Regions from separate parts of the Homo sapiens genome. Here all the other regions are linked to region 3. The links come from fine-mapping of genetic effects on gene expression. A gene starts in region 3. Each other region holds a variant in brackets. All regions are shown on one strand. Distances are from middle to middle.

Region 1 (10,697 bases), 78 kb after region 3:
TCTGTAGTTAAGTTTTCAGTGAGTCAAAAGTTACACATGGATTTTTTTTTTGACTGTATGGGAGTTGGTACCCCAACCCCTGTATCGTCCAAGGGTCAAGTCTATTTAAGGTATCATTCTGGCTGGTACATAGTAGACCGTCAACAAATGTTTTCTTTATTGAATTTCTTTTTAATGAGTATTTTAAAACCTTCCTGTTGTCCTGGATAATGTTTTTTAAAGAAAGTTCTCTCCTGAGAACAGACTGTAGAGCTATAAGGATGGAAACAAAGAGACTTGTTAAGAGGCTGTTGTAATCTAGGGGAGAGATTATTGTGTTTCAGATCTAGATGGTAGCAGGGGAAGTGGTAGATTCTGGATTTATTTTAAAGTAGAGCCAATAGAAAAAAGGTAGAGTCATGAATTGGATGGAGGATGTTAAAGAAAGATAGGAGTCAAATTAACTCTAAAAAATGTTAGTTTGAATAACTGGAAGGATAGATTTCTGTTCAGCTGAGATAGGTAGGTTGTGAATGAGGCCGACTTGAGTGCAAAAGAGTGTGGATCTTAGACATGTTGAGTTTGAGAGATCTGTTAGATGTACAGTCAAAGGTATGTGGATATACAGGTGTGAACTTTAGAAGATAAGCATTCAAGAGTCATCAGCATAAAGACGATATTTAAAGCCAGGATGAGATTACCAAAGGAGAGTGAGTGTAGGGAAGAGAAGGAAGACCACAGCTTGAGCTCCAGGGCACTTCAACATTGAAATGTGGGAGAGAGAAGGAGGAGTTACCAGTGAAATAGGGAAATTAAGAGAATTTTATGTCCAGGAAATCAAAGGGCAAAAGTTTGTCAAGGAAAAGAGAGTGATCAGCTGTTTCAAATGCTGTTGATAGGTACAGTTAGATGAAGACTAAGAATTGACATTGTATTTAACAAGGTCATTGAAAACCTTGTCAAGAGTAGTTCTGGAGGAGGGATAGGGTCAGCAGTTTGATTACAGTGTTTGAGAGTGAATGGAGGAAATAAACTGGACATAGAGTATAGACAACTCTTTCTGAGTAATACTACTGTATAGAGGAACAAAGAGAGTTGGCAATTACAGGAAACATGGAGCCAGGGAAGGCTTGTTTTTTTTTTGTTTTTTTGTTTTGTTTTTTGTTTTTTGTTTTTTTCCTTAAGAGAGATGACAGCTGTTGTATTTAAAATCACATTGTAACCATAAAAATTTTCTCATTGTCGACAACGGTAGAAGGACATTCATGTAATTGTTAACCAACAGTGTAGGTAGTACTGTTGGATACCCAGTTATAGTTATGTTTAAGGCTCCCCACTTTAGTGCTATCCGTGTAATAAAAAGAGTCATGTATATTTGGGGTATTGCCAATAGTATGTGTTTCTGTGATTATGATATTTGGGGAAACTACTAGAACAGAGGGGTGTTTGTTGATTGAATTACTCCTGATTAGTTCTGTGGGACTTTCTTAATATCTAAATAGTGGTTTAAAGAATAATAATTTAGTAAAGTGAGATAATTTATCTCTTAATAGCTAGAGTTTTAATTATGTCACAAAAAGTTGAGTTTCGATTTAAAAAACAACTGAAGAATATATTTATAAGTGAGTAAGGAAGATAGAGAATGTTATGACCACTAGAGGAGGGTTTACAAAAAGATCTGGGTTATTTAAATGAGGCTGGGGGAGGTTGAAGAGGTGATTGGACACTGTCAGGTTACTGAGGTTCAATTGTCATCAGTGAGAACCATTGTCTCTAGACTTTTAAAACTAATCACAAACCCCTAATTTATGAAAGTGCTAAATGAAATTGTCAGTTTTTCATTTGAAGTTTTCTGTTTTTTCTTCTGTTACTTGGAATGTTCTTATCTGAGTGTTTTTTGCCCAGTGGTATTTCATGTTTCTTTCCTCTTCAGTCTGTGGGCTGCATATATATACTTATTGTTGGCCTGAAGCAGACAATAAAAACAGAGAAATGCCCATCATATCCAAAGGAAGTAGCAAGAAAATTTCGACTTTTCCAATGGTGTCATTAATTTTAAGTTTCTTGACCCAAAAGAGTAAATTTTCCTCTTAACTATAGTGGGAGAAAAAATAATATATTTTCCTCACCCATTGCAAGGTTTATGGCTGAGACTCCAATAATAAAAGAGTAATAAGAGAAAAGCATAACAAATTTATGTATAATTTATATGTATAATTTAATATAAATTTTATGTGACATGGGAACCTTCAGAAATGAAGACTAAAAGACCCAGGGAAAATGTATTTTTGTGGATTGTCATGCATAAGTATGATTGGAAGACAAAAGTGTATGATCTGATGGTAATCAACTGGGAGAATTTAGCAAGGCTTGTTTGTTCACATTCTTCTTGGGCTGTCTGTGACATTCCTTCCCATTAGGTATAGGGCAGGACGCCTGTCACCTTAGGGGAGAGGGGAGGGAGAAAGAGAGTGGCCTTCCTAGGTTTGATGACCTGCTTCAAGGGAGAAAGAGGCAAGGGGAATTTTCATTTATGTGGCCCACTTCAAGAGAGATGGGTTGGGAGAAGGTCAGGGAGACCCCCCTGTTTCTGCAGTTTTCTTAATTTCCTTCAGGTTAAAATACTCAGTATGCCAGGGTGCCATGTTTCGAGGTGTCTGTTCTAAGTCCTAACAGAGGAATTAATATTTTATTTTGTAGTGAACAAATTGAAAATATATCCAGTAAAAGTGTGTACACTGATTCTGTTTTCCTAAATTTGACAAATAAAAGGAAGTGTTACTTTGTTCAATAAGTGTTCAATAAGTAAGATACACTGCCATAGTAAGTTTCAGGACAAGGTCCATGATATATAGCTGCAACCACCATAAAGTTACTAAATTTTTTCTTTTTTGAGCCAGAGTCACACTCTTGTCACCTAGGCTGCAGTGCAGTGGTACAGTCTCGGCTCACTGGAACCTTTGCCTCCCGGGTTCAAGCGATTCTCCTGCCTCAGCCTCCCAAGTAGCTGGGATTACAGGCACCCACCACCACACTCAGCTAATTTTTGTTTGTTTGTTTTTTGAGATGGAGTCTCGCTTTGTCGCCCAGGCTGGCATGCAGTGGCACGATCTCGGTTCACTGCAAGCTCCGCCTTCTGGGTTTACGCCATTCTCCTGCCTCAACCTCCCGAGTAGCTGGGACTACAGGCACACGCCACGACGCCTGGCTAATTTTTTGTATTTTTAGTAGAGACGGGGTTTCACCATGTTAGCCAGGATGGTCTCGATCTCCTGACCTCGTCATCCGCCCGCCTTGACCTCCCAAAGTGTTGGGATTACAGGTATGAGCCACCACACCTGGCCTGAAGTTACTAACTTTTAATAAGACATGATCCAAATTTTTCATATGACATTATTCAAAAGATCTTCATAAAGTGATTCAACAAATATTTTATTCTTCAACTCATACTTATTTAAGGTTGGATATTTTAAGATAAACAACATTAGTCTTATTAATGACTTTATGTAATTTTAAAGTTGGATACAATATAAGCTTTGGGGAAAAAAACATGACTAGATGGTATTCACCCAAGAATTTTAAGGGACTTAAAGGATGAACCTGAAACTGCAGCACATGTATAATATTGCTATCAAACAGAGCACTTGAAGTAGGTGTAATTGCTTGAAAGCTGGTAAATTGCCTGCCTGAGTCTAGAAACTAAAGACCTCCACACTTAAAACTGATAAAGCACTCTTTTATGCTTACTGAGCTTGTGTAATGCATGAAGATTAGGATCAGTGAATACTTAGGCAAGTTAAATACTTCCCCTTATGGGGGAAGGTCAACAGAGTGGTACAAATGGACAAATTATATTTCACATATATATAAAGAGAAAATAGAGAACAAATTATATAGACTTTCAAAAAGCCATTGACAGGTTTTAAATTCTAGCTTTTAAAAATTGGCAGGCTTTTAAAAAATTACAGTGAATAACATAACATTAAATTTAAGACTTTATTTTCATGTATACAATTCAGTAAAGAATACTCACATTGTGCAACAGATCTCTAGTACTTTTGTATGTTGCAACACTGAAAACTACCCACTAGACACTGATTCTCCCTCTCCCCTCCCCCAGTCATTGGTAACCATTTTTTAACTTTGTTTCTATGATTTTGATTAGTTTAGATTCGTCATATGAGTAGAGTCCTACAGTATTTGCCCCTTTGTGATTGGTTTCAATTAGCATAATGCCCTCAGGGTTTATCCATGTTGTAGCATGTGACAGAATTTTCTTTTTTTTTTTTATTGTACTTTAAGTTCTGGGGTACATAGGCACAACGTGCAGGTAGTGTTACGTAGGTATACTCCTGCCATGGTGGTTTGCTGCACCCATCAACCCGTATCTACATTAGGTATTTCACCTAATGCTATCCCTCCCCTAGTCCCCCACCCCCTGATAGGCCCCAGTGTGTGATGTTCCTCTCCCTGGTCCAAGTGTTCTCATTGTTCACCTCCCACTTATGAGTGAAAACATGTGGTGTTTGGTTTTCTGTCCTTGTGATGGTTTGCGGAGAATGATGGTTTCCAGTTTCATCCATGTCCCTGCAAAGGACATTAACTCTTCCTTTTTTATGGCTGCATAGTATTCCATGGTGTATATGTGCCACAGTATCTAGTCTATCATTGATGGGCATTTGGGTTGGTTCCAAGTCTTTGCTATTGTGAACAGTGCCACAATAAACATGTGTGCATGTTTTTATAGTAGCATGATTTATAATCCTTTGGGTATATACCCAGTAATGGAATTGCTGGGTCAGATGGTATTTCTAGTTCTAGATCCTTGAGGAATCACCACACTGTCTTCCACAATTGTCTTTCACAGTCAGGTTGAACTAATTTACGCTTTTTTTTTTTTCTATTTTAAGGTTACATAATATTCCATTGTGTGTATATACCACATTTGCTTTATCCATTCATCTATAAATAGATACCTGAATTGCTTCTACCTCTTGGGAGAAATGGGCAGACTTTGTAAGAAGTGTTATCATGAATTCTCAGGAAATTGTTTTCTCTTTAGTAGGTGAAGGATAAGAGCCAAAAAAAAAAAAGGAATAAAAAGAACTAAATGAAAAACAAAAATAGAAGTATTCTTCAGATACAACTGTTAAATCCAATCTTATTCATTATTTAACATTTTAATACATTTATTGGGCTGGGCACAGTGGCTCTCGCCTGTAATCTCAGCACTTTGAGAGGTCGAGGTGGGCAGATCACCTGATGTCAAGAGTTTGAGACCAGCCTGGTTAATATGGCAAAACTCCGTCTCTATTAAAAATACATAAATTAGTCAGGTGTGGTGGCAAACACATGTAGTCCCAGCTACTCAGGAGGCTGAGGCAGGAGAATCGCTTGAACCTGAGAGGTGGAGGTTGTAGTGAGCCAAGATTGTGCCACTGCACTCCAACCTGGGCAACAGAGCAAGAGTTTGTCTCAAAAAAAAAAATTTAATACATTTATTGATGAGGAAGCACAAAGTATAATCTCAAGTTTGTAGACAGTAAAGTTTTTCTGAGCAGTGGAACACCAAACTAGTAGGGCAGATTGGAGGAAGGTCTCAAAAGGTAAGTGGACTGATTATAAATGAATGTGTTTTCTTTTTAATAACTATCAATCAGCTTATATTCCCAAAATTAG[C/T]ATGTTCAAAATTGATCACCTGCCCCAGAGTGTAATTTTTTGCCATTTTATTATAGAAATTTTCAAACGTAACTTGAATTTCACAATGACACCAGTATATTTATCAGTAAATTTCTGCCATTAACATTTTTATTGTATTTGTCTTATCAAATACCTCTCCATCTATCCATCTGCCAGTCACATTTAATTTTATGGGAAAATGCTGAACTTTTTTTTCCATTTGTCAGTAATTTCTTCCTTTTCATTACTGAGTGGTATTACATTGAATGGCTCTAGTTATTTACCATTTAATGGGCATTTGAGTTATTTCCGATTCAGAGACTTTACAAACAAAGCTCTGAGAACATTTGAGTATGGTTTTTTGTGTGGACATGTTTTTTCTCTTGAGTAAGTACTTAAGTGTGGAATTTTTTACTTCTAGAATTTCAGTTTGGTTATTTATTATAGCTTTTATTTCTCTATTTGTTTACTTATTATGAACATATTTTCCTTTACACCACTGAGAATTGTTAAAATAGGAGCTTTAAAATTCTTGTCTGCTAATTCCAAACACTGGGTCACCTTGGAGTTGATCTCTGTTGATTGTCTTTTCTTTTAGAAATGGGTCACATGTTCCTCTTTCTTCAGATGTCAAGTAACTTAAAATTGTTTAGACCATCGAGTAAGTGTAGATGAGAACATTGTGAGTATTATGTTGTTGAGACTCTGCATTTTATGTACCTCTAAACGGTGGTGATGTTCTTGTTTTAGCAGGAAATTACTTGGTTGTACTCAAACAGCATACTCTGTCTATTGGGCAGGTGTTCAAATTTCAGTTCAATTTTTTTTGGTATTATTGGGGCTGCTCAGAGTCTGTCCTACACATATGTTGTTTAGAGGGTAGCCAGATACTTAAGCAGAAATTACCCAGAGAATTCAGTTTCCCCTCTCTGGCTATCTCTGAAATTTCCTCCTCATTTAGAGCAGCTGCAGTTCCCATAAATACCAAAGATTTTCTCATGCACCTTGATCCATCCAACCTGGCACAGAATGGGACTGGCCTCAGGCTAAGGGCTACTAAACAAAAACAAAAAATACCAGGAAACTCACCTAAATGCTGAAAATGATAGCAATAATGACAACTCCATAGTGGTTTACTAAGAGAAACTAAGGTATTTGTTAGGCATATCTCTGAGTTTTGAGACCAGCAATTAAGAAAACAAATTTTCCATTTTACTTAAAAAGTTTATTCTCTACAGAGAGTTCATGAATCTGGAGAAAATAAAATTACTCTCAGTCTTTCCGTTTTACTTTATGGATCTTTCTTATCCAAAATGGTCTTAATTTTTTTCACCACTTGGGGGCAGTATATGTCCCTTTTTTTTTTTTTTTTTTTTTTTAATTAAACCTGTTGGGGGCTATTTGGAAAATGTGATTATTTTTGAGCTAGAGACCCAAAGCTTTACATTTAGTTACCTTATTTTCATTTATATTCATTATTTCATATAAAATGCCTGCAATCAATCACATAGTATCTTTTTCTAGTAAAATTTAATATATTTAGAACTTGGAGAATGGAGTATCAAAACAAAAATTTGTGTTCCATAATATGTATTCAGAGATGTCTCAGTTATTGCACTAATTTCATAATTATGCCTACCAGAAATATTGAGAATTTTTAATTCTGTTAAAACCAAAAACATTCAGGGTTTTAAATTCTGTTAAAGCCACATGAAATCATTAAAGCCACACAATTACACAGTTAATTTGACTCTGCTTTTGTTTGTATGAGATTAAAACTGTTTAAGAAATTTAATAGAAGGTTTTTTTTTGGTTTTTTTTTTTTTTTTTTTGGAGATGGAGTTTTGCTCTTGCCCAGGCTGGAGTGCAATGGCATGATTTTGGCTCACTGCAACCTCTGCCTCCTGGGTTCAAGCAATTCTCCTGCCTCAGCCTCCCGAGTAGCCGGGAGTACAGGCATGCGCCACCATGCCTGGCTAATTTTTGTATTTTTAGTAGAGAGGGGTTTCACCATGTTGATCAGGCTGGTCTCGAACTCCTGACCTCAAGCGATCTGCCTGCCCTGGCCTCTCTAAGTGCTGGAATTACAGGCATGAGCCACTGCGCTTGGCCAGAATGTGATTCTTGACCTTTAAAAGGAAATTACTCTTTCTGAAGTGGCAGTTTTAGTGGATTTCTGGGATTTCCTTTTGTAATTTTTTCCAGATCTTTAGTTATTTGCAAATAACATCTAGATACTATTATAACACTGGAAAATAGGGCTCATCTTTTACTTCAAGTCCGGAGTTTATTTAAAAGTGTCAGTAATGTAGTCTAATTCTGGCTTATTTTGAGTTACATTATGTATATGATCTTGTGTATGGTACTTTATGTTTATAAAAGTGCTTATAGATAACTTTATTTCCTATTTATGAATTTTCTCTATTAGCAGGTCAAAATTTTGGTTGATCACATGCAACTCAGCTATATGTTGCTGTTTTGCTATTATAGAGTTAGTTCAGCATGCTTTTTCATATCAAAAGGATGTGATGTTAGAGATACAGTGTAAGGCATTAGTGAATCTGCACTTAATAAAACTATTAAATTTCATGAGGAAATGGTGAAATATTTTTCTCTTATGAGAACTTTGGTAACTAGGAAGCAAGAAGAATTTTGTCAAGAGTACTTCCTTGTTTAGAAACATAGTTACATTCTTTAAAAAATTCTGCAAGATTATCTTGAGGTTCATCTTAAGTATTCATATGTAAGTAATTCAGTTAATTTTATTTGTATGAAAATGAGTTATTTCATTGATGAAACATATTTGTTTATTAAAGTTTTTATATTTTAGGGAGTGTTAACTGTTTTCTGAGATTTCTTTTTATCTTATCCAAGTGATGAGCTTAAAGTTTCTTTGTAAGGTACATATTTATGATGATACCCATCAGTTATAATTATCCTAGAATGCTTAACAAATTAGTAAACAGTGATAGATTTGCCTCTTTATATTAAATTTAAAATGTATAAGCATTGCTTAAAATTTAGATTCATAGCCACCTGCATGGGTTCTATTTTGGTCTGAGGTGGAACTAAGAACCTCAATTTTTTTTTTTTTTTTTGAGACGGAGTCTCGTTCTGTTGCCCAGGCTGGAGTGCCTTGGCACAATATAGGCTTACTGCAAGCTCCGCCCCCCAGGTTCACACCATTCTCCTGCCTCAGCCTCCCGAGTAGCTGGGACTACAGGTGCACGCTGCCACTCCCGGCTAATTTTTTGTATATCTTTTTAGTAGAGACAGGGTTTCACTGTGTTAGCCAGGATGGTCTTGATCTCCTGACCTCGTGATCTGCCCACCTTGGCTTCCCAAAGTGCTGGGATTATAGGCGTGAGCCACCGCACCCAGCCAGAACCTCAATTTTTAATAAACAACCCAAGATTCTAATGTGGCGGGTTCATGGACACTGACCACAAATCATTTTTTAAGCTATTTTTGTTAACTTATTAATTGAGATTTAAAAATAACTTTGAATTTTTAATTACATTTCCTGATTTGAAATTTATATATTGGCTGGGCACCATGACTCACTGCTATAATACCAGCACTCTGGGAGCCCAATGTGGATGGATCACCTGAGGTCAGGAGTTCAAGACCTGAACATCGGGAAACCCCATCTCTACTAAAAATACAAAAATCAGCTGGGTGTGGTGGTAGGCACCTGTAATCCCAGCTACTTGGGAGGCTGAGGCAGGAGAATCACTTGAACCCAGGAGGTGGAGGTTGCAGTGAGCGGAGATCGCGCCGTTGCTCTCTAGCCTGGGTGACAGAACAAAACTCCGTCTCAAAAAAAAAAAAAAGAGAGAGAAATGTATATATTAATGCCATTTCTTGCCGCCAATATAAAGTTAATATGTTTTAATATATTTAACATATTCAAGAATATAATTGAAGTCATACACTATTACGTTACAACTTGGACTTACTAAAATCCCTCTCTTGCCTATACCTCTAAAACCTCTAAAAAATTGCTCCTTCACAAACCTGTTAAGTTTTTACAAATAATACAAATGGCTTACGATAAAAGTGCATGAGGGAAAAAAAATTCATGGGAAAGCTAAAATGAATGCAATTTTAAGTACGACATAATTGGGAAGAAGTTTCATTTAGCTGATTGTTTTATACATGCTGTATGAAGAGACATAATCTTTTAAAGAGTCATAAGACTTTTTTTTCCCTTTGCTACTGTGTGTATAATCTTTAGTAAATCTAGGAACTTGTAAATTTTAGGGGCAAGTTTTGAGGGGCTTATTGGGTTTTGAGATGAAATTTTGAACCCAGTGGCCAAAAGGATGTATCACTACATGATGGCACGGGAAAACTCAGGAGGGACCTTACCAAATACTTTGGTTTAAATCCAGAGATACCATGATAACTTCGTTCTCTTGATCTGCATAGTGTTTCTAAGCCAGATTCCACAGATATGTTTTGGAGTATCTAAGAGTTCTTTTTGATAATTTTTAACTTTATGATTTAATTTTTTTAATGACCTCAGAAATTAACAGATGCATATGATGGTTCATCTGAATGAATAATTTATAATAGAGTACTATCACTATGATGTCATTGCCCATGTTTGCATTTAATTTTGTCATGGCATTAGCACCACAGATCACAGTTTAAAAAAACAGTAGTCAACTGTCCAGGCACAGTGGCTCACGGCTGTAATCCCAGCACTTTGGGAGGCCAAGGCAGGAGGATTGCTTGAGCTCAGGAGTTCGAGACCACCCTGGCCAACCTGGTGAAACCCTGTCTCTACCAAAAATACAAAAACTCCAGCCTGGCCAACATGGTGAAACCCTATCTCTACCAAAAAATACAAAAATTAGCTGGGTGTGGTGGTGCAGGCCTGTAGTCCCAGCTACTCGGGAGGCTGAGATGAGAGAATTGCTTGAACCTGGGAGCCAGAGGTTGCAGTGAGCCAAGATTGTGTCCAGCCTGGAAGACAGAATGAGACCCTGTCTCAAAAAACTACAAAAAAAAAACCCCAAAACAAAAACTTAGCC
Region 2 (10,697 bases), 200 kb after region 3:
TGGCCTCTGAATCCTTCAAAAGAATCTTTGTTACAAGAAAAAATAGGGCTGGGTGCAGTGACTCACACCTGTATTCCCAACACTTTGAGAGGCCAATGCAGGCAAATTGCTTGAGTCCAGGAGTTTGAGAACAGCCTGGGCAACATGGCAAAACCCCATCTCTACAAAAAATACAAAAACTTAGCTGGGCATGGGGACATCTGCCTGTAGTCCCAGCTACCCTGCTCAGGAGGCTGAGGTGGGAGGATTACCTGAGCTCAAGAGGTCGAGGCAGCAGTGAACCGTGATTGTCCACTTACTCTTCAGCCTGGGTGACAGAGTAAGACTCTGTCTCCAAAAAAAGAAAAACAGAAAAGAAAGAATTCTGCTGTTAGAACTTTGCTTTTCTTAGCCCCAAATGCTGAGTTCTTCAGAATCACAAACAATTATTGCTGTTGCACATTACTATTTTTTTAAGAATTTTTAAAAATAGAGGTTGGTTTTTAATATTTAAAGTGAGGATTTAAGGAACCACAACTGATTCATACTCGAAATAATGTTAACTGTCCAAATATTCTAAAGATTCTATCACTGAGCTATCTATGTGCCTTGAACATGTGCCTAATGGGCATGCTATTAATATCTCCTGCCAGCTGGTGCCAGGCATTCTTCTCATGGTGAGCCAGAGGGTTATTTTGAGGAAGTGCTTCTCAGGTCATCTAAGCTGAATGACGGGAAAGTAAGGCTAGATATCCAAAGAGAACATTTATGCATTCCTTCATGCATTCAACAACTTTTATTGAGTGCTTACTGTATGCACAAAATTGATCAATGGCACTAAAGATCCCAGGTTAGGGTCTGATACATTTCTGAAGTTTGCAAAGTCCACATTTGAGTTCATAATGGATATTTGTAAAGAAAGCGGTGGCTTTGCGCTCTTTTTATGTTTATTTAAGATAAAAGCAGTATAACCTTTGAGAGAATTATATGTAATCCTTCACATTTGAAATTAAAGGATTGGAGCCAGACGCACTGGCATGTACCTGTAATCCCAGCTTCTGGGGAGCCTGAGGCAGAAGGATCACTTGAGACCAGCAGTTTGAAGCTGTAGTACACTATAATTGCACCTGTGACTAGTCACTGCACTCCAGTCTGGGCAACATAGAGAGACTCCCATCTCTCAAAAAAAGAAAAGAAAAAAAAAATCAGTGGAAACTTAAGGCGAATGATAAAACAACTCAGTCAAAACAGTAAATGAACTATATGCAAAATAAAGTTTTCATTGTACATCAGCCTATACCAAAATATATTAAAGTTTCAAAGGAACCTATTTTCCAACTACTACACAATAGATTCCATTCATATTAAATTTGATTTAAAATCTTATATGTTCAACAACCAGAATTAGATATTTTAGGGTAGCATTTAATTGGAAGGAGATTTCTGATTTGTTATAACAGTAATGTTTATTTTATTTTATTTTTATTTTTATTTTTTGGAGTTGGAGTCTCACTCACTCTGTCACCCAGGCTGGAGTGCAGTGGCATGATCTCGGCTCACTATAACCTCTGCCTCTCAGGTTCAAGCAATTCTCCTGCCTCAGCCTCCCAAGTAGCTGGGACTACAGGTGCATGCCACCACGCCTGGCTAATTGTTTGTATTTTAGTAGAGACAGGGTTTCACCATATTGTCCAGGCTGGTCTCGAGTGATCTCAAACTCCTAAGCTCAGGCAATCTGCCCACCACGGCCTCCCAAACTACAAGGATTACAGGCATGAGCCACCACACCAAGCCATGTTTATTTCATAAAATTGGAAAATTACTGGTAATCCTACCATCCAAAATAACCACTCGGAAATGTATACAGATATATATATATACTTTCTTATTTAAGATATTATTGCTTGTAATTTAATAGTTTAATTTATTGTCATAGAATTCCATTGTAAACATTTTCTTATGTCATTGGATATTCTTCAGAAAGGTCATTTTTAATGGTTATCCAAAACGTTAATTTTTAGTACTTCCATTTTTGAGTGCTATATTTTCATTACTTAATTGTATAGTTACTGAAAAATATCATTAGTTGCCTATTGCAACCCAGGCAATACCACAAAATTAAAATGAGAAAATGGATGTGAAGTTCCTGACATAGAGTAGATCTTTAGTAAGTGCTAGGTCGTTACACCTTGATGTGTTTGTTCTTAAAGTAAATTACATAGTTAATTTTAGAGGAAAAGCCAGGGTTCTGAAATCTTTTACTAGGCACAATTTGAGTTTTCATTTAAGACGATATTGTTTTAAAATTATACAGAAGCCTCTTGAAATAATTAGCAGGGATACCCCCCAAACATGAAACTTTCTTTAGTATCAGTCCATTTTTAAGAGTCTCACTCTGTTACTCAGGTCGGAATGCAGTGGCACCATCATAGTTCACTCTCATCTCAAACTCCTGGGCTGAAGTGATCCTCCTTTCTATCTTCCTGAGTAGCTAGGCATGCACGCTGTACCTGGCTAATTTTTTTATTTTTTATTTTTTTGTAGAGACAGGGTCTTGCTGTGTTGCCCAGGCTGGTCTGGAGCTCCTGGCCTCAAGCAATCATCCCACCTCAGCCTCCCAAAGTCCTGGAATTATAGGCATGAGTCACCACACCCAGCCTATTTTTTAAAACTCTTTCTGGGACACAATTATAGAAAGTTACAAGGGCTTATACAATTAAAGTAGATTAAAATAAAATGGGCTCTCCTTGACTAAACTTGAAAATCTGAAGTAATGTTTTCCTTTCAGTTGTGATTGTTTTGAAAATAGCAAACATGATTTTCTAGTTACATGTTTTGGTTAAGCCCTTTAACCTGCCACACTAAATGGTGACACCCAGGCACTAACATGGTCTTTGTATATGCCTCTGTGTTTGTTTTGGCTAATCTGAATGTGGAGACTGTTCTGACGTTCTTAAACCTTTCAAATTGTGAGATTACTGCGTACTATAGTTTCTCTCGTTTTATAAAAAGCTTTAAGTTAAAACTTTCAGTTTACTGAACTTCATAATAAAAAAAAATAAAGCAGAGGAAACTAGCAAAATTTTGTGTATGACAAACATGTTTTCCTTTCCTTTATTCTCATATATATGAGTTCTCATTTTTGTCCTTGGGGAAACTTGTACTCATTTCATTTGGGATGGCTTTAGGAATAGTTCTTTAAAAAGTTGCTGCTTTTCTATTCATGATAAATTTGGAAGTGTAAGCCTATAGAAGAAACTAGCGACAGTCTCATGTAACTACAGATAATCAGCATGAGATCACTGTTTAGTCCTTAGTCATTTCCAGCTGAGTAGATAGTATAAGGACCAGCCTTAAGCTTTTTGAAAGTGGGATCCTTCTGGCACATGTCCCCTTCTTTGCAACCATCTTTGATGCCATGCTAGTAGAGACAGGACTCTGATCTACTGAAAACTGAGAAAGATCAAATAACTAATATAGCTAATAAGCATGCCTCACATATTCTTGCTCATTTCGAGTTTTGGTAATAGTAAGACACCGTACCAATACTGAAGAACCCAGAACAGAGCGTCAATCCTCCATTGTGCTTTGATATCTCAGATATAAACAAAACTCTGTCATGTCCACATTTGCTAGGCTAAAAATGTTAGGAAATTGTATGTAGTAATCAGAAATACAGACTGCCATGGACAGAGCCAAAACCAATAACCTGTATTTGGCATCAAGAAGTGCTAAGAGAGCTAAAAGATAACCCTTGGAGGAATACTAATTTGACCAAGTAACAGGTGAAATTTTGGTTTAATATTTAGGTGTACAACCAATATACTGGTGGTGGTAGTTTCTAGCTGATATCAAACTTAATCTTGGTATAAGTGAAAATCATTTAAGCAATTAATGTATTAATTACAAAGAAGTATTGTATCTATTTAAGTGTCCCAATAGATAGCTTATAAAAAGCATTGCTTTCTTGAGAAATTCAGTACATTCTACACCAAAAATAACATTTAGCAAGAGTCATTTTTCCTGACCATGTTTATAGTTATTCTTCTTGAAGATCTTAGCAGGGCCAGGCACGGTGGCTCACGCCTATAATCCCAGCACTTTGGGATGCTGAGGCAGGTGAATCACCTGAGGTCAGGAGTTCGAGACTAGCCTGGCCAACATGGCAAAACCCCACCTCTACTAAAAAGACAAAAATTAGTTGGCATAGTGGTGGGCGCCTGTAATCCCAGCTGTTCCAGAGACTGAGGCAGGAGAATTGCTTGAACCTGGGAGGCAGAGGTTGCAGTCAGCCCAGGTCACGCCATTGCACTCCAGCTTGGGCGACAAGAGCGAAACTCTAACTCAAAAAAAAATTTTTTTAAATAAAGATCTTAGGACTTGTTTTCATTGTATGTTTATTGTGTTAAGGAGGCATAAACTCAGCTGTAGTTGAGCAGTTCTTCATTTGTCTTGTTTTGAATTTCATTTAAACACTCTTCTTTCTTCCCACTTGTAAGATCCCAGACTTCTAAAGAGGATCCACCTATAGCACCAAATCACTCACCAAAGCAATATGCCCACTTAAAGTTTTAGGAGGTTGAATATAGAAGTGGTGAATTGGTATCTAAGACATTTGCCTTCTTCTTTGTGCACTTTTTAATTGCTAGTTCAATGCTTAATACTGAGCATTAGTTGTACTTTATTTTTTTTCTTTAATTGCCCATTATTGGCAATAGGTGTACCTTAATGTTGAGGTGCTGCAACTTCGGAGTATGGTTTCTAACAGTGTGTTCATTTGAACAAAATGCACTTACAACAAGATCAGTCCAGAGGTACTTATCGCTATGCACATGTCTCACGCCTATAATCCCAGCACTGTAGGAGGCTGAGGTGGAAGGATCACCTGAGCCCAGGAGTTTGAGACTAGCCTGGGTAACAATGTGAAACACAGCCTCTACAAAAATTTTAAAAATGAGCCAATCACCCTAATGCACCTGTGGTCCCAGCTATGTGGGAGGATGAGCTGGGTCACTTGAGCGCAGGAGGTCAAGACTGCAGTAGCCATGTTTGCACCATTGCACTTCCTGGCCTGGGCAATAGAGTGAGACCCTGCCAGAAAAAAAAAAAAGAAGATTTATTAAGTACCTACTCTGATAAGCTCTACAGTTAGATACCACAGGGGATAAGACTCCTGTCATTTTATGAGTTGCATCTGTTTAGGGAGAAATGATTAACATACATGAAAGAATATATAAACTTTAGTACTATATCATATGTTGGGTTAGGCTATGTCAGTCAGAGGAATAGAGATCTGTGAAGGCTGGCACAGTCAAAAATGGAGGAAGTGGAACTCGACGGGAGCCTTTAAAGAAAATCTTCAGACTGGAGGACCAAGAAAAGGCAGTGGAAGGAATACAGAAAACATATTTGTGAGACGTTAAGTAGAGTAGACATGAAGGGCAAATAAGGTTAGTTCCAGTGAGATTATAGAGGGTCTTGATATTTTTAAATAATTTAGAGATAGAGTAAAACTAACCATGAAGGTCAGATTTGAAAGTGAGTGGGAACAGGATATAGACATCAGTTCACTATGTAAGAAATACAGATGTCTGACAAACATGAAACAATGCTTAATCTCACAAATAAATTTAATTTAAAACAGGATTTTATGTTTATCTATAAGGTTAGCAAAACTTCCAAAGATTGACAATGCTCAGTATTGGTTGGGTTATGAAGAAACAGGAGATATGAATGAACAGGAATTCATTCATTCAATAGATAATTTCTAAGTACCTCCTTTGTACCAGGTATTTATTGTTGAACTGTAACAGGTTTTTATATTTTCTGGATTCAAGTCTCTTAACTGATATGTGATAAGAAATTTTTTCTTCCATTCTGCAGATTGTCTTTTCACTGTTTTTTTCCTTTTTTCTTTCTCTCTCTTTTTTTTTTTTTTTTTTTTTGAGACGGAGTCTCTGTTGCCCAGGCTGGAGTGCAGTGGTGGAATCTCAGCTCACTGCAAGCTCCGCCTCCC[G/A]GGTTCAAGTGATTCTCCTGCCTCAGCCTCCTAAGTAGCTGGGATTACAGGCGCCTGCCACCACACCCAGCTAATTTTTGTATTTTTAGGAGAGACGGGGTTTCACCATGTTGGCCAGGCTGGTCTCGAACTCCTGACCTCAAGTGATCTGCCCACCTCAGCCTCCCAAAGTGCTGGGATTATAGGCATGAGCCACCGCACCCGGCCCTGTTTTTCTTTTTCATGACAAAACTGAAATGGTTAAAATCTTTTTACTTTCTTAATGGTGCATTTTGAAGCCCAGAATTTTAAAATTTTGATGCAGTCCAGTTTATCCAATTTTTTTTGTTACTTATGCTTTTGCTGCCCTGAGAATCTTTTGCTAAATCTAATTTTGTGAGGATTTACTCATATGTTTTCTTCTAAAAGTTTATAGTTTTAGCTTCTGTATTTAGGTCTTTGATCCATTCTAATTAATTTTTTGGTATCATATGAGGTAAGGGCTTTGTACTGTTTATTAATGTGGCTACTAGAAAATTTTAAATTGCATATGTGGCTTGCATTATATTTCCATTGGACAAAGCTGACCTAGACCAGTGGTCTCCAAACTTTTTGATACGAATTTTTATTGGGAAAAAATTTGAGTACACACTCAGCAATATATGCATATGTATTCATATTTATTTATAGATTATGTACGCATGTGCTATCATATGAATAGTATGCACATAATGATATAAAACCTACACAGCAAATGAAAACTTAAGATAATTTAACATTAAAATAAATGTAAGTAAAAGTTCCCACAGTTCAAGAAATAATTTTGCACATAACTACTTTTAAAGACCACTGGTCTAGATTATGATCATAACCTTCTAAATGACTGTAGTCTTCTTCCTTCTGCAGGCCATCCTGCACACTACTGATAGAGCACTCTTTCTAAAGTGCGGGCCAGATCGTGTTATGTCTAACCAACTTCAGGATAAAATCCAAACATACAAGGCTTTTCATAAAATATCTCTGCCTATATCTCTCTAGCTTCAACCCTCACCATGCACCATATATTATTGATCTATACTCTACTACTTAGAATTTTCCCTAGCACTTCATCCTCTACATAGGCATTTCCCTCTACCTAAAATGCTGTTTCTCTGCTTCTTCACCAGATTAGTTAGTATAGTTTTTATTCCTTAGTGGTATGCCTTTTCTTAGCATTTAGCATACTACAGTAATTTTTAAATTTGCCTGTCTTCCTCAGTAGACTATTAGATCTTCCCAGTAGATATTATGTATTCTCAGTGCCTATGCAGATTATAGGTTTTTAATACATGTTTCTTCAAAGGAAGTGTTCATGAATATTTTTCGAATGAATTAATGAGTGTGTTTCTTCTAATTCACCCTGCTTTTCTGCAGTCATTGATATTCATCACCAAGAAAAAATAGTAATTTCCTTTTTTTTTTTTTTTGAAACAGAGTCTCACTCAGTTGCCTAGGCTGTAGTGCAGTGGCACGATCTTGGCTCACTGCTTACTGCAACCTCTGCCTCCCGGGTTCAATAGATTGTTGTGCCTCAGCGTTCCAAGTAGCTGGGATTAAAGATGTGTGCCACTGTCCGGGCGTGGTGGCTCACGCCTGTAATCCCAGCACTATGGGAGGCCGAGGTGGGCGGATCACGAGGTCAGGAGATCGAGACCATCTGGCTAACATGGTGAAACCCTGTCTCTACTAAAAGTACAAAAAATTAGCCGGGCCTAGTGGCGGGCACCTGTGGTCCCAGCTACTGAGGAGGCTGAGACAGGAGAATGGCGCGAACCCGGGAGGCGGAACTTGCAGTGAGCCGAGATCGCGTCACTGCACTCCAGCCTGGTGACAGAGCAAGACTCCAACTCAAAAATAAAAATTAAAATAAAAAAAAGATGTGTGCCACCACACCCAGATAATTTTCGTGTTTTTAGTAGAGGTGGGGTTTTGCCATGTTGGCCAGGCTGGTCTCAAACTCCTGGCCTCAAGTGATCTGCCTGCCTTGGCCTAATTTTTTTTTACTGTTTTTGTTTTACTGTAAGTATTATAATGATGAAAAACAGTTATATTTCTTGTTTCTGCTGTGTTCTTTTGCTTAAATATATCTTTATATTTCTTTTCATTAAATCTTAATATAATCTCTTATATCCTTAATAATACAATCTTAATAAATCTGAGTATAATCTTTTAATGAAAGATTTTATATTATCTTTTGTTCTTTTCTGTGTATGTGTGTTTGTACTACATTAGTGGGCTAAATGGGTCTTTTAGGGCAACTGAGAACTTTAATACCATTTCTAATATATGTGTGTATATATATATATACACATATATATATATATACATATATATATACACACACATATATATACATATATATACATATATATACATATATATATATATATATACATATATATATGAGGAAATGTGTTTTACTGTTCTTACAACTGACTTAGAGGTGAGTTTTTAAAATGTGAACCCCATATATACTGGAGACCAATTGTACCATGTTGTCTTCTACATTATTATCATTATGCATCATAAATGACATCAACAGTCATACTAATACTCACGGTCCTTCCCGTCACCATCAATTCTCAGAAAGTTTTTCTCAGTAAAATTGTACTATAAACTAGTAATCAAAGCACTGTAGAGTATATTTGTAAGCAATTTGAAGATACCTTAGATACTTTCCTTCTATTTAGAGTTGATTTTCCTTACTTGGAATCTCCCAGTCAAAATCAGGGAAATTCCTTTTTGAAGAAAGTAGTCCTGGTGTTAAGGCTTAAGCACTAGCATACCAAGAATTTCTTTTTTTTGAGATGAAGTCTTGCTCTTGTCCCCCAGGCTGGAGTGTGATGGCACCATCTCAGCTCATTGCAACCTCCGCCTCCCAGGTTCAAGCGATTCTCCTGCCTCAGCCTCCTCAGTTGCTGGGATTACAGGCGCCTGCCACCACGCCCAGCTAATTTTTGTATTTTTAGTAGAGACAGGGTTTCACCATGTTGGCCAGGCTGGTCTTGAACTCCTGACCTCAGGTGATCTGCCTGCCTCAGTCTCCCAAAGTGCTGGGATTATAGGCGTGAGCCACCTCACCCGGCAAGAATTTCTTGAGTCAGTGTTTTATGACTTATGATATTTTTATTGGTAAGCGGTATCACCCTATCTGTATAAGAACATTATAGAATTCCCAAACAAAATAAAAGCACTCAAACCAAATGAACAATTTAACATTATTAAACTTGATGTCTTCAAGTCATTATCTTGTTCAGATTGTTGGTAATATGTGACCTCTGCATCTCATTTTCTTGCATGTCTTTGTCTTCCATTTCATTCATTTGTAACTCTAGTTCTGTGTAATTGCATTTGATTGTGTTTATTGTTCTATACTGAGTATACACATACTTGTTCTACACCTTCAACATATTTATTGAAAAATTACCATGTTTAAGTGACCCTAGTGTGAAGTTCTGTGGGACACAAAAAGATAAAAAAAAGTTAACACCTAACATGTATGAAGAGTAAGAAAGCAAGAATAAAAATGTGAATAAAGATAGCTCCAAGATTTTTTAATTAACCTAATAAAAATAGAGCTAATGATAAACTGATGCTTGCAAACGTATAATGGAATCAACGGATTTTAAATGCAAAATTCACATTAAGGCTTATTTTATTTGTAGAAATCTTGTTATTTTAGGGTCAAATTAGAGAGAACTTAGTATATTTTTATTGGGAAATGAAGAACAATATAGTCATAAACTGTAAACTCCTTAAAAATTTATAAAGAGAGAAAGATTAATGGTTCCCTAAGGTTGAATTTGAGGAGCAAAGGAGGAAGTTGGAATGTGGGGAGGATGGAGAGTGACTGGTAATGGACACAGAAATTCTTCTTGAGATAATGAAAATGCTCTAAAATTAGATTATAGTGATAGTGGCACAACTCTAAATATACTAAAAATCATTGAATTGTACACTTTAAATTGGTGGACTTTATGATATTTAAGTTGCATATCAGTAAAATTGTATGTCAGTAAAGTTTAAAAAAAAAGTGGTTGTCAAAAAATGAGGACTGTATGCTTTTTCCATCTCTAATGCCAGTTGAAAGAATTTTAGATCTAAACAAGCAACTCAAATCACTTTATAAACTTTTGCCAGAACTCATCTTTTTTATTTGGTATGAGTTCTTAGAAATAGATATATAGAATGATATTTAACACTATTTATTATTATTATTATTTTTAGAGACAGGGTCTCTGTGTCACCCCAGGCTGGATTGCAGTGGCACAATCCTAGCTCACTGTAACCTCGAACTCCTGGGCTCACGTGATCCCCCCATCTCAGCCTCCCAAGTAGCTGGAACCACAGGCATGCACCATCATGCCCAGCTAATTTTTGTATTTTTTGCAGAGGCAGGGTCTCACCCTGTTGCCCATACTGGTCTTGAATTCCTGGCCTCAAGTGATCCTCCTGCCTCAGCCTCCCAGAGTGCTGGGGTTGCAGGCATGAGCCACCGCGCCTGGCCTTAACATTATTTTTTAGAATGTTGTCTGCATTTCTTTATCTGATATTGGGAAATATTAAAATACAATAGAATTTTTTCTGCCCTATGATTTTATTTAAAGCACAGTTATCTTACTTTTTGTCATTATAAAACATTCCATCTAGGATTCCATGGATTCTGCAATTCACAGATTAATAG
Region 3 (10,697 bases):
ATGTATGTGAAAATATTACAAAAAAAAAAATCTGAAATCCAAAACATGGTCCCAAGGTTTTTGGATGAGAGATAATCAACCTCTAACTATATGTATTTTGTGCCTATTATGCTACTGCTGCAAATACAGTTATGAACAAGGTATATATGGTCCCACTCCTCACAGATATTAGTCCAGGAGGAGAGATAGATATTAAAGTAATAACTGATTCCAGATATAAGTAAAATAAATAAAGAGTGGAATACTTCTGAAACAAATTACAAGGGCATCTTACCAAGTTTGGAAGGACACAGTGTTTAGCAAAGACTTGTCTGAAGAAGTGACAATTACACTTAGACATCAAAAGTGAGTAGAAATCAACCAGACTAATACAGAGGCAGGAGGAAGGGTGATGGTTGAGAGCAAAGAAAACAGCTTGTGTGATGGTCCCTACACTAGAGGGAACTTGGTAAATTCAGACCTGAACTGCTATTGTGAAGGCAATGTAATTAACGGGGTGAATGGGTATAAAATATGAGGTAAGTCCTAGTGAAGATCTTAGAACTGTGGAAAGCTACTGGATGATATAAAATAGGAACATAAAAAAATCAAACTTGCATTTTAAGGACTTTTTGGCTGAGTATCAAATGAATCTTTAAAAAGTCCAGTTATATCACAATTTTGATAAAAGACTGGTGGGTAGGATGAACAGGAGATATTTAGCCAACCTGAAATGAGTCAAGAATTGAAAGGGCTTAGTGAAGAACAGGAGGCAGAGGAGGTGAGAAAGCAAGACTGACTTCTAGATTTCTTTCTCAAATGTGCAACTGGATTGATGGTGGTAGCATGGACTGTTTCGCTGGTACTGCCTTGCAGTGCTAGTCAAATGGAATCTATATACCATAGATTCTCTTAACTCCTTTCTCTATAACGTGTTTTTTTTTTTTTTTTTGAGATGGAGTCTAGCTCTGTCACCCAGTCTGCAGTGCAGTGGCGCAATCTCAGCTCACGACAACCTTCGCCTCCCAGGTTCAAGCGATTCTCCTGCCTCAGCCTCCCAAGTAGCTGGGATTACAGGCACCCGTACTTACTACTAAATATATATATATATATACATATATATATATATATATATACACATATATATATGTAAAGTGGTGCTACAGGCCGGGCACAGTGGCTCACGCCTATAATCCCAGCACTTTGGGAGGCTGAGGCGGGTGGATCACCTGAGGTCAGGAGTTCCAGACCAGACTGGCCAACATGGTGAAACCCTGTCTCTACTAAAAATACAAAAATTAGCTGGGCGTGGTGGCGGGCGCCTATAATCCTAGTTACTCCAGAGGCCAAGGCAGGAGAATTGGTTCCCATCCCCAGCTTCAACCTGGGAGGCGGAGGTTGCAGTGAGCCAAGGTCGCGCCACTGCACTCCAGCCAGACTCGGTCTCAAAAAAAAAAAAAAAATAGTGCTATGATAAAGCCTCTCATAAGGAATAATTATCAAAATTAAAATTCAGATGCACAGGACGATTTTAGAGGAAAATAAAAATTAAGGTATAAAAAGCAATCAATAGAGAGTACCTAACATACCAAAAAGTTGAAAAGCAAAAGAGGCAACCATACACAGTGGGTTGCGAGGGGGGTGTTGTTGAAAAGGCACGACTATTTTAAGCGTGTAGAATTTTAGGGATATAAGGATGAAAGCAGAGATCTCATGCAGACCTTATTCTAAATTGGCAGAGATAGTTCTTTTCAGAGTGAGGTGCACAGATAATTTATTAATAGAAAGTTAGCCTGCTTCCTTCCATGTCTTTAACAAAATCCTTTCATTTCATGATCAAAATGCAAATGTAGCCAAGAGTTCTGCAATTCACATGACTTAAAGGGAGGTTCACAAATGCTACCATTGAGGGGAGAAATGGTATTCAAAAAGTTTTGAAAATTTTATTTTTGATCTCACGGGTTGATTTAAATACTGTGTAACACCACATCCCCTCTCCTTCATTTTTTGTTTTACTTCACTTTTTTGTGTTCTTACTCTCTTTATAATCTTCATTTCACACCAAGTTTTCTCAGAAGAGATCTTGATGATGCAGCCAACACAAACCATCAGTTCTCAATTGTACATCAGTGATTCCACCAGAGAAAATGTGAGTTTTCTGTTCAAATGGGATCCTGTGGCCATATACATAAGGAACCTAAGTACAGCTAACCTAAGAAAATAGGCTAGAAGTGAGGTCTTATACTCTACCTTTTTCCAAGGAAATATACAAGACAGTAAATTTATATTTATATACACACACATATATATATTCATACATAAATCCACTTACAAAATAAAACTATTAAGTGTTGATACATCGAAAAGGATAGAAAAATAAGCTGAATATTAAGAGTAACATTCTCAGAAAAACAGCAAGGTAGATACTGAACAAGTGAAAAATTAGATGCAAAGGCTCTAAAAGTGTAATTCTTTGAAAAGAAAACCAGGACCAGTGCAGAAAAAGCCAGCAGCCCCTCTGCAAGTGCTACATAAGAAAATGAGGCCGGGCATGGTGGCTCACGCCTGTAATCCTAGCATTTTGGGAGGCCGAGGCATGTGGATCACCTGAAGTCAGGAGTTCGAGACCAACCTGGCCAACATGGGGAAACTCCGTCTCTACTAAAAATACAAAAAATTAGCCGGGTGTTCTGGCGGGCACCTGTAATCCCAGCTACTCCAGAGGCTGAGGCAGGAGAATCGCCTGAACCCGGGAGGCGGAGGTTGCAGTGAGCCGAGGTTGCGCCATTGCACTCCACCCTGGGCAACTACAGCAAGACTGTGTCTCAAAAAAGAAAAAAAGAGCCTACGGTGAAGGAGAGAGAGATACAGCAGTGAGAATTTCATAGGGTTATCTTTTAACAGAGACGGAAGCTGACGTGAGTAGACCCTGGAAAACGTCTAGGCCCACTGCAAATAACAACATCGATCAAACACTCATAATACAGGTGGATGTGAGTAAAAAGGAGACAAAGAAAGAAGACTACAAGAGAGAGGCCATCTGAAATAATATAAAAATAATTGATCATCTTTGATATGTTTTTACATGGTTGTCTTATTTAAATATTCACAACTCCTGGAGGTAGGGTTTTATTTTACAGAAAAAAAAAAAAAAAAAACTAAACAGGCTCAATGATGTTTAAGTATCTAGTCCAAGCTCACCACAGGGGCATAAAGTGGCAGAACCGACATTAGAGGGTAGACAGAGGGTAACCGCAAGACACAAATTTCGTGTTCTGCAACACTTGTGTAGGCTTCACACACACGTGCCTCCGGGGCCGAAAACAGGCGACACCATAGCACTTGGGCACTGGTGTCACCCGCTTCAAGAGGAAACTAGGATAATTATGACCAAAGGGGAACTTGTTCATTCGCCGGATATTAAAGGTGCCTACTTAAGTGCGAAGAACAGGAGGCATAGCGGTGACCAAACACCTGGCCCCTGTCCCCGCCGGGATCCCAACCTTGGGGACCCCCGAAGCGCCCCGGGCGGGAATCGGGTGGGACGCGGCACGCAGGAGGGAACGGGTGTACTGGGTGGGGTGGGCGTGACGCTGTCACCGCAGGAGATCGGGCGGGTAGGGCGGACCTGGGATGCGGGATAGAGGGGGCGCGGCATTCGCGCGAGAGGGACGCGGTGCGCAACCGGCTGACTAGGGGCCGCAACGCCTAGCGCGCGCGACAAACTACGCAGCGGCGGAGACAACTCTCAAGGGATAGGGCCATCAGCCCTGCGGCCCTGGCAGGTCCCTACCAAAGATCTTGGAAGATGCCGTTTGGGGCACTAAGGGGACCTGAAGTCCTCCCCAGGCTCATTCCCGCCTGGGGGCCTTGGCTCTGGGAAGGCACGCAAGGTAAAGGGAGCGCAACGGAAACTCACCGTCCATGGTCTCCCGCACCGCATTCAGATTCGCCGCCGCGGCCGCCGCCGCCGCCCCAGCACCGCTGCTACTCGCCATGGCTAAGGCCGAGGGAGGCGGGAGAAGGGCCTGACCCGGAACTGGAGCGCCTTCCTCTCTCCGAGGCAATCACACAGCGCGTCTCGGCCCACGCCGGGCAGGCTCCGCCCCTCGCGCTCGCCGCCGGCGTGAGGCTGCGTTGATTTGAATTTGGAGCCACGTTCCTCTGCGCGGAACGTGGAGCGAGGAGTTGCCATTCGAATTTCCTACGCGGCCTCCGTGCGATTGGCTGGTTCGCGGATGGCGGGACGACACGATTGGCTAGTCGCTCACAAGCCCCGTGCCCTGGTTGGCCCAAGACAGCGCGGAAGCGGGGAGTTAAAGAGTCTATGCCTGTCGTGGAAGCTGGCCTGGCCCCCGGAGCTCCCTGGAGTCGGTACTGGGGGCTTCGTTTTGTACGCACCGGTAGGTACGCTCTTTGTGGTCCCTGGCCTTTCCTCCTGTCTGAATGGAGAGGTTTCTTTTCCCAGCTCCTGACTTGCCTGCCCGCTCGCCCCTGGTGAATGGGAGCAGTCAGGGAGTAGGTGTGGAAGAGAGGGGCACCAGAAAGAGTGGCCACGTAGGGTTGGGGGCGACGCCTCCTTCGCACTCCATCCAGGGAAGCCGGCTGCATCTCAACCTTCCAGAAGTAGACTCTTTTCCACCCCACCCCGCCAAGGTGTAGCCTCTGTAGCCTCCTTTGATTGCAAGTAATGCAGTCTCCCTTTCTATCCCGGGAGGGGTGGAGGGGAGGTCTTGGCGAAAGGAGGATTTTTGGAGGAAAGGGGACCCCAGGCAGTTAATTTCCTAGCCCCTGTCAATCATACTTCTCTGGCTAGGACTCATGTGCAAGAAAGGCACAAGCTTCCTCATCTCTTACCTGCTTGCTACAAAGAATTGTTTAATAGCAACTGTAGTTGGATAGGGTATCCGAAGAATGTTCATAGTGTTGAGACATGAGATGATGAATTTAAAAAAAATTGTAGCTATAAGTCCTTTAGTTGAGAAGAGATCTGGGCCTGTTGTAACCTTTAGTTTCCTCAGAGGCAGATCTGAATTCATTCATATTTGATTGCTGCGTATAAGCCACTTCACTTCTCTGAGCTTAATACTTTCGCAAAATAATATCACTAGTAAGTTACTGCTATAGCTTTCAAGGTTGTTTCGAGGATCAGTTGAGAACATTTATATGTGATACTTTTTTTGTAAGCTGTATCATAGCCCCAAGAGTGTGAGGTTTTGAGTTGTTTTTTGTGACACATTTGTCGAGTACATTTTAATAGTTAAAATTAATATCTATGGGACTTTGTAATTTTAACATGCATACTCTTGATTTCTTTTTAGTTTTCTCTCTGTGCTATGGGAGATGTCAAGGAATCAAAGATGCAAATAACACCAGAAACTCCAGGAAGGATCCCTGTTTTAAATCCTTTTGAAAGTCCTAGTGATTATTCTAATCTCCATGAACAAACTCTCGCCAGTCCTTCTGTTTTTAAATCAACAAAATTACCAGTAAGTTATTCCTGACTAGTGTTTACAACTAATTTTAAATGTAAGTAATTACAAATAATTTTAAATGTAAACATCTGTCTTTACAAGGTAAGGAGGAAATACATTATGGAGCATATATAGCTGCAATATACTTTTTTAAATTGTAGTGTTCATTATAATCTAGTGGTTAGGTTAATAAGTTAGCTAGAAGATTTTTTTTTTTTTAAGTTCAAGAACATACGTTAGCTTCCTGCAGTTGTGGGTGTAGCTACATTCTGTGGTTGACGATATAGCTACTAATACATTAGAGAAGAAGCTGCATCATCTAATATTCTGTTCTCACTTATTTGGCAAACATTATTTGAGTGTTGCTATGTGTCAGATACAGTGCTAAGCAGGGATTACACTGTGAACAAGTTAGGATCATTAGGCACAAATCCTTAAGGAGGTTATACTCCGATGTATGGGTCACAAACTTTCTGTTAGGGGCCAGACAGTAAATATTTAAGCTTTACAGGTCATTTGGTCTCTGTCACAACTACTCACTTCTGTCTTGTATCACAAAAGCAGCCATAGGCAATGTGTAAAGAGATAAATGTTACTCTGTTCCAATACAGCTTTATTTATGGACACATTTGAATTTCATATAATTTTCACATGTCACAAGATATTTTTTTGTTTGTTTTCCCAACCATTTGAAACTGTCAAAATAATTCTTAGCTTGCAATCTATTATAAAAAGAAACTAACCCCTATTTTAATGTGTTAAACAGAACTAGATGAGTAATATCAAGGCAGTGTGATAGGTGATATGATTAGTACTTAGGACAATAGTAATATGAAGGAAAAGTGTTCTTCAGGATATTAGAAAAGGCTTCATCACTTTATCTTTTTTTTTTTTTTGGTAGAGATGGGATTTCACCATGTTGGCCAGGCTGATCTCGAACTCCTGACCTCATGTGATGCACCCACTTCAGCCTCCCAAAGTGCTGGGATTACAGGCATGAGCCACCATGCCCGGGCCACTTTATCTTATTTTACTGTTATTTGCTACACTGGATAAGTTCTTTTGACCTTGGATCTTTCAACCTACCAAGTTACTTAGAAAAACTGCAAATAGGGTGGCTGTTTCTGCTACACTTTCATACAGGTTTTACAATGAGCAAGTATGTACTAGTGGAAGGTCGAGCAGTTTATATTGAGTCATTTCATCAATCTGACCTTATGATTTTTAATTGAATCATTAAAATTTATCTCTTGGTCTTACTAAAAATAAATAATAGATTGACGGCAGCTTAATCCTCAAAGTTGGAATGTATGGCATCTTGCGTTTTTAGGACTGAATTTGCCTAGAATATATTTCTAATTACAGATTAGGATTTGGATAAACCTTTAATTCAGTTGCATGGTTGAGTACAGAAAGGCAGCACTGGTTGCCATTCATAATTATTTTAAGGATCAACTATGTTGTGAGCTTTTGCAGCCACCTCCAAAGTGACTAAGGACTTTAATTTCAGTTCCTTCTTAGTGAAAGTAAAGACGTTTGTTAACTGTGAGAGATTTTTACTTTTACATGGGCTTAGTTTATCACACTGATGAGTGTTAATTGTGAAAGTTTTATATCTTTATTACTCTGTTGTGATTTTTCTCGTATTACGTAATTCCAACCCAGGTGAAAGATTCTGATATTTTAAAAGAGATACAGGCTGGGCGCTGTGGCTCATGCCTGTAATCCCAGCACTGCCAAGGTGGGCTGATGACTTGAAGTCAGGAGTTTGAGACCAGCCTGGCCAACATGGTGAAACCCCATCTCTACTAAAAAAAAAAAAAAAAAAAAAATACAAAAATTAGCTGGGTGTGGTGGCGGGTGCCTGTAATCCCAGCTACTCAGGAGGCTGAGGCAGGAGAATCGCTTGAACCGGGGAGGTGGAGGTTGCAGTGAGCTGAGATTACACCAGTGCACTCCAGCCTCGGTGACAGAACGAGACTCTGTCTTAAACAAAGAGAGAGAGAGATACAATTAAGTCAGTTGATCGAATGTGATATGATTACCCTTTGCCATTTAATTTCATGGTAAAGTCAAATTTTAAAATACAAGCTTTAAAATATTTTCATATTATAACCATTCATATTATTTCTCACATAGGTTAGCATTTTGATGAACTATTTTAGTTTGCCTTTACTCATAAGCTCACTTTCTTTTGTTAAGACTCCAGGGAAATTTAGATGGTCTATTGATCAACTAGCTGTAATAAATCCTGTAGAAATAGACCCAGAAGATATTCATCGTCAAGCTTTATACTTAAGTCATTCTCGGTAAGTTTTCCTTTCTTGCACCTAAGTCTAATAACACTCTCAAGTGAAGAGAGGTAGGAAATTCTAAATGTTGAGTATTTTTCTATGTAAAGGTATCAGGGAGAAAAAATTTTGATGCAGATTTTTTCTATCTAAATGAATGAGTTCAAAGAACTACATTCAGAAAGATTTTCTTGCCAACAGTTCCAGACCTGAGTAGATACCTTTTTCTTTTACAAGTAACCTTTTCCCTCTGCTACTGAGGTGACAGCTCTGTACCCCTAGCACTCAGTTAAGAGAAGAACATTTTGAAATTTGCACTTTTCTACATGGTTGTGGCTTCTGCCATTAACTTGTTTCAGTTTGTCTTTTTGATGATTTGGGGTAAAGCAAAATGCTGTTTCATTGTTATCTATGTTTGGGGAAACCTAAAACCCCCTCAAAGAGTTACGTATGCACTGAATGGAAGGGTATCCATTAGCAACAGAGCGGTTTTTTAGACATCATCCAACTGTAACAATTCACTTGGAATCTGAATTACATTTTCTAGAATTCTACATATCACCCAGTGCAGTCTTATTTGTTGATGTGTTGTTTAGGTTTCAAGGCACTAATGTACTGCAGATTTAGTTTTTTATTACAAAGTGTAAGGTCCTATTATTCTTTTGTAGTTTTAGGGACTCTTGTTTATATGTTTTATAGTCTGATTTTTTAATATTTGAAAAAAATCAAATACATGGTATGACCAGATTTTAATTTGCTGTCCTAAGGTAGACATGTTGTTAGTCCAAAACAAAGGATAATCCTTTTCCCTTTGACTTAAGAATTCAGTCACACAACGTTGCACACATATTGAGATATTCTGGTAAATACTTACTGGCTTTTCTCCTCCATCTTCTCTTTGCTTGGTAACATGATGACCATTCAATCATAAAATTAATGTCCACCCAGAGTGTTAATAGGAAGGGAATAGAATGAGGATGAAGCATGAAAGGATTTTAACTTAAATTTAAATAATACCTTTGAGGCCAGGTGTGGTGGCTCACACCTGTAATCCCAGCATTTTGGGAGGCTGAGGCGGGCAGATCACTTGAGGTCATGAGTTCAAGACCAGGCTGGCCAACATAGTGAAACCCCATCTCTACTAAACATACAAAAACATTAGCCGGGCATGGTGGTGCACACCTGTAATCCCAGCTACTCGGGAGGCCGAGACAGGAGAATCGCTTGAACCCAGGAGGCAAAGGTTGCAGTGAGCTGAGATCATGCCATTGCACTCTAGCCTGGGGGACAGAGCAAGACTCCATCTCAAAAAAATAAAATAAATAAATAAGTAAATAAATAATACCTTTGAAAGAGAAGGTGAGATGAATATCTAAAAGCAAATGAGTCACAGTGACTAATTTTTTGTTTCACACGAACTTAATTATGCTTAATTATTTTGTCTCATTTCTTCAATATATTGAATGATGGACAATTATTATATTGATCAGTCAAGAGATACTTATTGAGTACTGTGAGGGACTGTAAGAAACACTGAAGAAGTACAAGATACTAAGAGTCAAGAGTCAAAAATATAATTAGACCAAAGTTGTAACACAGTGCTTCTGTTCTTACTACTAAATGATATATTGTCTGCAAAGGTTTATAAAGATAATCTTGGTGTCTCTTAGTACATAGATTTATCATATAGAAGAATGGAAAAGAGTGGGAAAATATTATAATTTAATTTAATAATATAATTCAATGAATGGTTATGGCTTCTACCAAGGATAGTCAATATATTCTTCACAGAGCATCTCGTTTCATCCTTAGAAACAAGCAGTGTCTTTCAGTATCTCTTCTTACATATTAGCCCTCTACTTCAATTCTTCCCATCCTTTTCATGCCACCATCCACACAGAAAATTGTAACTGAAAAGCATACCAGTGTAAGCAGGTGAGTCTTGGCCATGTAGGTGACCAGTCCTGAGGTCCCCTCTCCTTTGCCACCCTGCAAAGGCTCAACATTCAGGCCACACCTATACCTATATGCATCATACTGGTGTTCAGTGGTATGCTGGTCAGGATGCTCTCCCCTGTATGACTTCTTAGAATCTTGTTTGATCTGACTCTAGAGTATTTGGCCACAGTGATTTTTACAGTTTCCAGCAATCACCTGAGTATTTCATGTTCTTGAAGTCCCTCTGATGAAGTAGCAAAAGGTTTCTGAATGCAGTAATCCTAGTTCAGAGCTTACTTGCTATTTGCTAAGCTTGTTATGTGCTGCCATTTTGACCATGATAAGATGAAGAGAACCATTGATAAGATGAAGGCCATTTTGTTATCCTCAAAATGGCTACTGTTCAAGCTGGGATATGTGGGTTGACACTGTAGTTTATTTTCTCATACTTCTCCCACTTGAAAAATCTACTTAATTTCTGAAATGTATACATTCTCATATAAGCTTTATTAAGCCATGAGCAAGTCTATATGTGAAAAAAATTCACACCATGGAATACTATGCAGCCACAAAAAGCATGAGATCGCGTCCTTTGCATGGACATGGATGCAGCTGGAGGCCATTATTCTTAGCAAACTAATACAGGAACAGAAAACCAAACCCCTCATGTTCTCACTTATAAGTGGGAGCTAAATGATGAGAGCATGTGGACATATAGAGGGGAACAGCACACACTGGGGCCTGGTGGAGGGTGAGAGGAGGGAGATCAGGAAAAATAACTGATGGATTCTAGACTTAATACCTGGATGATTAAATAATCTGTACAACAAACCCCAGTGACACAAGTTACCTGTGTAACCTGCATTTGTACCCCTGAACTTAAAATAAAAGTTAAAGAAAAAATTCTGAGACAAAATAATTTTAAATTGTAAAAAAAAATATGTCTTACCAATTTACTGATGGAAGGCAAGGATTCTTTCCTGTAATGGAATAAAGAAGTGGTCCTAGAAAGCTA

Which allele goes with the higher level. Alleles are on the strand shown, and positions count from the first base shown. SD is a standard deviation of normalised expression in the study named.
With allele T in place of C in region 1, the expression in adrenal gland of the gene that starts at base 4,298 in region 3 is lower (large effect, 1.3 SD a copy in GTEx).
For the expression in tibial artery of the gene that starts at base 4,298 in region 3, allele G in region 2 goes with a higher level than allele A (moderate effect, 0.62 SD a copy in GTEx).

What was found. PIP is the estimated chance that this variant, and not a neighbour inherited with it, causes the effect.
Region 1: its variant is the best candidate, but not a certain one, in a credible set for the expression of BORA in adrenal gland (GTEx, PIP 0.73).
Region 2: its variant is the best candidate, but not a certain one, in a credible set for the expression of BORA in tibial artery (GTEx, PIP 0.58).

Annotation. Positions count from the first base shown.
Region 1 is chr13:72,802,119-72,812,815 of GRCh38, forward strand. All of the region lies in intron 5 of PIBF1 (progesterone immunomodulatory binding factor 1), which reads left to right. Among named protein-coding and RNA genes, the nearest start is that of PIBF1, 25 kb to the left of the region's middle. The variant C/T (reference allele first, on the strand shown) is at 5,659.
Region 2 is chr13:72,919,640-72,930,336 of GRCh38, forward strand. The region is part of intron 13 of PIBF1 (progesterone immunomodulatory binding factor 1); the gene reads left to right. Among named protein-coding and RNA genes, the nearest start is that of KLF5, 130 kb to the right of the region's middle. The variant G/A (reference allele first, on the strand shown) is at 5,996.
Region 3 is chr13:72,723,626-72,734,322 of GRCh38, forward strand. It overlaps BORA (BORA aurora kinase A activator), which reads left to right and starts at 4,298. Exons shown (of 12, transcript NM_024808.5): 1 at 4,298-4,382; 2 at 5,301-5,468; 3 at 7,656-7,762. The coding sequence starts at 5,316. It overlaps MZT1 (mitotic spindle organizing protein 1), which reads right to left and starts at 4,004. Exons shown (of 3, transcript NM_001071775.3): 1 at 3,899-4,004. The coding sequence starts at 3,977. RefSeq lists silencers at 3,450-3,509, 3,465-3,646, 4,170-4,319 and enhancers at 3,740-3,809, 4,530-4,579.